Linked DNA regions of Homo sapiens. The protein of the gene in region 1 interacts with the protein of each later gene in a biochemical or structural test. Each region holds a gene or a part of one and is shown in the gene's direction. Other genes may lie near its edges.

Evidence for each region.
Region 2: the proteins of ATF7 (region 1) and CEBPG interact in a test that uses a peptide from one of them, tested with the Homo sapiens proteins (one large-scale study listed by IntAct).

The regions. Positions count from the first base shown.
Region 1 is NC_000012.12:53,518,324-53,521,972, reverse strand, and holds part of ATF7 (cyclic AMP-dependent transcription factor ATF-7), read left to right. Parts: intron 1-3,649. UniProt on the Homo sapiens protein: Stress-responsive chromatin regulator that plays a role in various biological processes including innate immunological memory, adipocyte differentiation or telomerase regulation.
Region 2 is NC_000019.10:33,372,114-33,375,862, forward strand, and holds the start of CEBPG (CCAAT/enhancer-binding protein gamma), read left to right. Parts: upstream 1-1,595; 5' UTR 1,596-1,782; intron 1,783-1,999; exon of another isoform or gene 2,000-2,500; intron 2,501-3,749. UniProt on the Homo sapiens protein: Transcription factor that binds to the promoter and the enhancer regions of target genes. Binds to the enhancer element PRE-I (positive regulatory element-I) of the IL-4 gene. Binds to the promoter and the enhancer of the immunoglobulin heavy chain.

The DNA.
Region 1 (3,649 bases):
ATATTGTATTATTTTTCCACTGTATTATTTCAGAGATGTGTTCCCATAGAAAAGGAGTAACTATATCACCAATTTTAAACATCTCTACTTAAATTTTAATTTTAATATGTACTTCAGGGTGCATTCATTCATTAAGCAGATATTGATGGAATGTCTATTCTGTGCCAGTCACTGTTTTTCATGCTGGGGATATAATAGGGAACCAAATAAATTAGATTAAATCCCTGCCCTTGAGGAGCTTATATTTTAGTGGGTGAGACAGACAATAAACAAGATAAATAGGTAAAATATATGACATGTTAGATAACAGTAAATGTTAGAAGAAAAATAAAACAGGGAAGGGTAATATGAAATGTTAGCAGCAGGATAGAAATTTTAGATTAGGTGGCTTTTGAATAAAGACCTGAAGGAAGTGAGGGAGCTATATGCATTTATATGGAAGAAAAGTACTATAGGGAGGAGGATCAGCAACTGCAAAGATGCAAAGTCGCAAGGTACCTGGTACATCTAGGAACATCAAGGAGGCTCAGCTGGAGTTGGGGGTGGAGAGTAGTTGGAGACAAGTAGGGGACGTAATAGCAGCATTTTATGTAGGGTCTCATCAGTCATGGTGAGGATCTCAGCTTTTACTCCACACTGGGGGCCATTAGAGGGTTTTCAGCAGAAAAGTGATATAATTGATCTGACTAGGCTGGGCGCATGCCTGTAATCCCAGCACTTTGGGAGGCCAAGGCAGGCGTATCACCTGAGGTCGAGAGTTCGAGACCAGCCTGGCTAACATGGTGAAACTGCTTCTACTAAAAATACAAAAAATTAGCTGGGCGTGGTGGCATGCGCCTGTAATCCCAGCTACTTGGGAGCCTGAGGCAGGAGAATCACTTGAACCTGGGAAGCGGAGGTTGCAGTGAGCTGAGATGGTGCCATTGCGCTCCAGCCTGGGCAACAAGAGGGAAATTCCGTCTCAAAAAAAAAAAAAAAATTGATCTGACTTACATTTGAACAGGACATCAGGGGTACAAGGGCAGAAGCAGGCAGTCCACTTAGGGGCTGTTACGGTAATACAAGCAAGGGATGACGGTAGTGAAAGTGACGAGAGCAGGCTGAATCCAGGATATGTTTTGAAGTTAAAGTGATGAGAGCAGATGGGATGGTATATATGAGAAAAAGAATAAAAAATTACACCAAAGTTTCTGGCTTAAGCAACCACAAGAATGAAGTTGTCATTAATTGAGATAGGGTAAAGTGTAGGGGAAATGGTTTGGGAGGTATATCAGGAACTCAGTTTTGGACAAACTGAGTTTAAGGAGCCTATTAGGCTTACAGGTGGAGATGTCAAGCAGTCAGTTGGTTATATGGATTTGTAATTCAGAGGAAAGGCTGAAGATAAAACTCTGGGAGTCGGCAGCATATAGCTAGTTTTGGTTTTGTTTGGTTTGGGATTTTTTGGAGGCAGGGTCCACCTCTGTCTCCCAGGCTCTCAAGTGATCCTCCCCACTCAGCCTGAGTAACTGGGACCACAGGCGTGCACCACCATGCCCAGCTAATTTTTTTTTGTTATTTTAGAGATGATGTTTTGCCATATTGGCCAGGCTGGTCTCAGACTCCAGGACTTAAGGGATCTGCCCGCCTTGGCCTCCCAAAGTGCTGGAATTACATGTGTGAGTCACCACACCTGGCCATAGTTAGTTTTTAAAGCATTGAAACCAGATGAAGTTCCCAAGGGAGACAGCAGAGCTAGAAAAAGAGAAGTCCCAGGAATGAACCATGGGGTACTCCAACATTTACAGTTCATAGAAATGAGAAAGAACCCACAAGAGACTGAGAAGAAACAACCAGGAAGTGAGGAGGAAAACCAGCTACAGAGCCAAATGTGGTATTCTGTAAATCAAAATAAAAAAGTGTTTCAAGAAGTTCAGTGATTTTAAATCCTGTTGCTCGGTGGCTCACGCCTGTAATCCCAGCACTTTGGGAGGCTGAGGCGGGCGGATCACGAGGTCAGGAGATCGAGACCATCCTGGCTAACACGGTGAAACCCCATCTCTACTAAAAATAAAAAAAATCAGCCAGGCATGGTGGCGTGCATCTGTAGTCCCACCTAGTTGGGAAGCTGAGGCAGGAGAATCGCTTGAACCCAGGAGGCAGAGATTGCAGTGAGCCAAAATAGTGCCACTGCACTCCAGCCTGGGTGATAGAGCAAGACTCTGTCTAAAAAAATACCAAAAAAACAAATCCTGTTGATGGGCTAAAGAGGATAAGGACTGTTTATCAGTATATAATCTATATACGGTCAGTTTTCCACTTAGTCCCTGCAAGAACTCTGATACATAGTTAATCCATTAAACTACTTATTCTTTTTTTTTCTCCTGCCTCAGCCTCCCGAGTAGCTGGGACTACAGGCGGGCACCACCACGCCCAGCTCATTTTTGTATTTTTAGTAGAGACGGGGTTTCACCATGTTCCCCAGGCTAGTCTCCAATTCTTGGCTTCATGTGATCTGCCCACCTCTGTCTCCCAAAGTGCTAGGATTACAGGTGTGAGCCACCGCACCCGGCCTTACATATTCATTATAGCAAAGATGTATTTAGTTCCTGCTGTGTGGTATAGATATTATGTAAGTACCTGACACATGATGAATAAGACACTGTCACTACCTCTGAGAGAATCATAGGGTCATATAAACCTGTGGATGAGGTAAGGATAGATATCCCAGTTAAAAAGCCCCTAAACTGGGAGCTTCCTAAGGATAGGGTTCCCGTTTTCTTCTCTGTGTACCCATGCCTGGTACATGGATGATGCTCAGTAAAATGTTTGATGAATATATGCTGTGAAAACACAAAGAATAAAACAGTTAATGTACTGAGGGTAACAAAGATGGCTTCACAGAGGACGCAATATTTGAATCTTTTTTTTTTTTTTTTTGAGACGGAGTCTCGCTCTGTTGCCCAGGCTGGAGTGCAGTGGCACAATCTCGGCTCACTGCAAGCTCTGCCTCCCGGGTTCACACCATTCTCCTGCCTCAGTCTCCCAAGTAGCTGGGACAACAGGCGCCCGCCACCATGCCCAGCTAATTTTTTGGTTTTTTTTTTTTTTGAGTAGAGACGGGGTTTCACCATGTTAGCCAGGGTAGTCTCGATCTCCTGACCTCCTGATCCGCCCAGCTTGGCCTCTGAAAGTGCTGGGATTACAGGCGTGAGCCACTGCGCCCGGCCATATTTGAATCTTAAAAGAAGACTCAGGCATTCATCAGGATGTCAGAAATACAACTGACTATGGAACGTTTGCCTTTTTTCCACATATTTCTGTTTAAGCAGCCATAGAGGCTATCCGATGTTTAATAAAACTCCTTGACTTGCTGAGTGTGATGACTCATACCTGTAATCCCGGCAATTTGGGAGTCTGAAGCAGGAGGATGGCTTGAGGCCAGCAGTTGAAGGCTGCTGTGAGCTGTGATTGTGCCATGGCACCTCCAGCCTGGGTGACAGAGTGAGACCCTCTAAAAAAATTTTAAAAACATTTGACTAATGAGCAACATGGAGTTACCATTGTATGTAGCTCAGGTAGTTGTGTTTAGTAGTAAAATGTTAGTGTCACTTTAGGTGGAGTGGCATAACTTATAATGTTTTATAATCATTAATGCCTAGCTAATTTT
Region 2 (3,749 bases), on another chromosome or scaffold:
GCAGTGGCTCAATCTCAGCTCACTGCAACCTCCGCCTCTCAGGCTCAAGCCATCCTCCCATCTCAGACTCCAGAGTAGCTGGGACCACAGGCACAGCGCCACCACACCCGGCTAATCTTCTGTATTTTTGGTAGAGATGGGGTTTTTCCATGTTGCCCAGGCTGGTCTCTAATTCCCGACCTGAAGTGATCAGCCTGCCTCGGCCTCGCAGAGTGCTGGGATTACAGACCTGAGCCACCGCGCCCAGCCCATTGTTCACCGTTGTGACCCCTTTTAATTTTTATTTATTGCTTTATCATCTTACTGATTCCTCGAAACAATCTTACGGGGCGAGCCGGTTCCATGGGCGCTGAAGAAACATTTCCTCTTTCAAAGCCTCAATTGTTTGAACGATACGCGTTGCTAAAGAGGAAGCAATTAAACCTATCAGGCGAGTTCTGCCCTCCGCCCAGCGAGCTGCTGCTTCCTGGTGTTAAAACGCTTTCGGGGCCAGGCGCGGTGGCTCACGCCTGTAATCCCAGCACTTTGGGAGGCCGAGGCGGGCGGATCACGAGGTCAGAAGATCGAGACCATCCCGGCTAAAACGGTGAAACCCCGTCTCTACTAAAAAAATACAAAAAATTAGCCGGGCGTAGTGGCGGGCGCCTGTAGTCCCAGCTACTTGGGAGGCTGAGGCAGGAGAATGGCGTGAACCCGGGAGGCGGAGCTTGCAGTGAGCCGAGATTGCGCCACTGCACTCCAGCCTGGGCGACAGAGCGAGACTCCGTCTCAAAAAAAAAAAAAAAAAAAACGCTTTCGGGTTCTCCTGGCGAGTTTTAAGTCACACTGGATCGCTGCTTATTTTCAGAGATCACCTCGCACCCATGCACCTGGAAGGCACCCAAAGAGAATCATTTTAAGAAATTCACTTCATCTCACCCTAACAACAAAGCACAGCCTGCAGCACATGGATTTCACCCATGTGACATCAATGCTAATCCTATGTGTGAAACATCTGGGTTCATTCGATTTTTTAAAAATTAGTAACTGAGATGGGGTCTCGCTATGTTGTCCAGGCTGGTTCTCCAACGCCTGGGCTCAAGCCATTCTCCCGCCTCGGCCTCCCTCGGCGCTGAGATTATAGGCGGGAGCCACCGCGTCAGCCTCCACTCTTTTTGCGGCGACAAAGCCCGCCCGCCTGCGGGGCGTTCCGTTCGCAGAAACTCTGTGAGGGACGCCGCGGGGGCTTCCAAGGGACGCGGCGAAACCAAAACAGTCGCCGGTGGTTCACAAAACCACCTCAGAAAATGCTTCCAAAGGCACGTCTGGCCTCCACAAGGTGACGGCTTTTCAGCCTCCGACTCGAACTTGAGTCGTCCACAGCACTAGGCCGCCGCCAGCCCGGGCGAGCTGCCTAGGGACCGCGGACGCCGCAGCAAGCAGCTCCCTGCTCCCGCCACACCCGCCGAGCCAGCCGCGCGGAACCCACTCCCCCACCGTGGGCCCGCCTCCCGCCGCCAGCCTGCCCACGATTGGTCGACTGGGCTGCCCGTCGCGAGAGAAGGCGGTGCCTCCGGCAGGCCGGCGCTCCCATTGGCCGGGATGGCGGCGGCGGCGCGCGCGGCCCCGGCGAGCAGGGGAAGCCGGTGGCCGCGGCTGCGGAACGGGCGGAGGCTGCCGGTTTCGTAACCGTCGCTCCTCCTCGCTGACTCGCGGGCTGTGAGGCCTGGGTCGGCTCGGGCCGCACCGCGCGGGGCCGCTCGGAGTGGAGGCCGCCTGGGGGCAGGCGGGCTAGAGGAGCAGGTAAGGAGGCTGCGGCGGGCGCCCTGAGAACGGGGAGGAGGAGGCCGCGGCGACGCCGGCCGCTCGACTGGGTGCGGGCCCGGCTCGGGGAAACCCAGCCCCGGCCCCAGACGGCCCGCTGGCCCGGGAAGGCCACGCGAGGCTGGAGGCGCGGGCGGCGGCGCCGCGCGGCGTCTGATGCAACCTGCCGGCAACACCCGGCGGGGACGCTGAGCTCATTCCTGGCCGCGGCCCAGCGCTGCGGCGCCGCCCGTCGACCCCCGCGCTGCCCGGGGCGCCCCTCGCGGCGGGCCGGGAGCGCGCGAACGGCCGGGGAATGCCCCCTGCGGAGCCCGGCCCCCTCTCGGTGAAACGGGCGCTGTGACCCGCCAGGCTCGCATTGGCCCCTGGGGATGAAGGGTGTTCCCAGAATAGCAGAAGGTGGACCGAGTCGAGCTTTAGAATCCTGATCTTCTAGAAGGGCTCAGCTTGCGGTGATCGAAAATCTGTTCAGAAGTTCAAAGACTGATCAATAAAATAGGGAAAGCAACTGGTTTTTAAATGCATGACTTTGCAGAGATAATATTTTGCTTCTTTGTGGAGCTGTTGGAATGTCCTGCACTTTACTGTTGAACGTAGTTTAGAAGAACACGCAACACCTACGGGTCGAATAGAGAAGAAATGAAGCACTTCGCAGGCATAGTTGGAGGGAGCGGAGCAGGGCCGACAGCCAGCGGAGGTGACCAGATGCGAAGGATGGAAATGCATGTGTCGCGGGGGGAGGAGAGTGTTTTCCAGGGCAGCTGGTGTGTTGCTTCTCTTCCGCAGGTTTACGTGTTGGGTTTTCCTCTTGTTTGAAGTTTATACTGTAATCTGGCATCCTGAAATGTATAAGATTTAGAAAGGTCTCAATGTTGATGGGTGACACCAAAATTGGTAGTTGTGTCAGAATTGACTGCTTATATGAATAGGTTGTCACTTAAGGCAGACTTCTCCCAAAGAAATGTGACTCCCAGAGAAAATTTTAAAAGAAAATCCTATAAGGGCTTGCTTTACGAAGACATTCTACACCTAGAAGCTCTTGATATTTAAGATGTGGTCATCTGTTAGCCCTTGAGTAGTATTTGGGATAAGCTGTTCATAAGGTCGATTCTGCTTCTGGAAAAAGTTGCTGTAAACAAGGCTAAATAATTACAGGGTACAAGGGAGCTGAAGCATATTTCAGCTTCTTGATTCCTGCTTTTGGTGGGCACACTTGGCTGGTTCAGTTATTTTTAATACCTGCTTTTAAAAAAAGTAGATGGAAACAAAACTTCATTGAGAATATCCTTTAAATTCTCAAGATCACATCATGTCTGTCTGCAAGGCTGTCTGATCTTGGAGAGATGGTTTCATCCCTGGGAAATTAAACACTATGTGCTGAGCCCCTGGTAAAGACAAATAGGACCTCGTGGGGCTGAATTTGGTCTCGTGGTCTAAGATTGCCTCACTTGGTCACAGTAATGGTAAATACAGGTAGCCACGATTCCAGCTGTATTGTGCGTTCTTGGGAGGGTTGGTTCCATGGGTTGTTATATTGATAGGTACACTGGCCTCCTGCGTTTGTGGCTTTCTAGCTCTATCAGTAAAAAAAAGACAAAAATGAGCATGACCTCCTAATGGATGTTCATTTACAAATAGTCTATTTGTTTTGTGTGTTGTAAATCACTTCAAAAGGATTGGGTTAGAAAGATGATGTTGATGTTCTTCTAATGCTCCAGTGACCCACTTCTGTACTCCCAGAAAGGGGACGTCCCCTTCCTCATGGACCCTGCGCTAGATGCTTGTGAAGATCTGCAGGGAGACACGATGCGGCTGGAGTTGACAGACCTAGGGAACAAATTTTCCCAGATGCCCAAAGAAAAGAGAAAGCACAGACCATTTAGGATACAGATAGTGGTTTAGTACTGTCAAGATGTGGTGTGAGGGAGGAGAGAGGGTCAGGACCT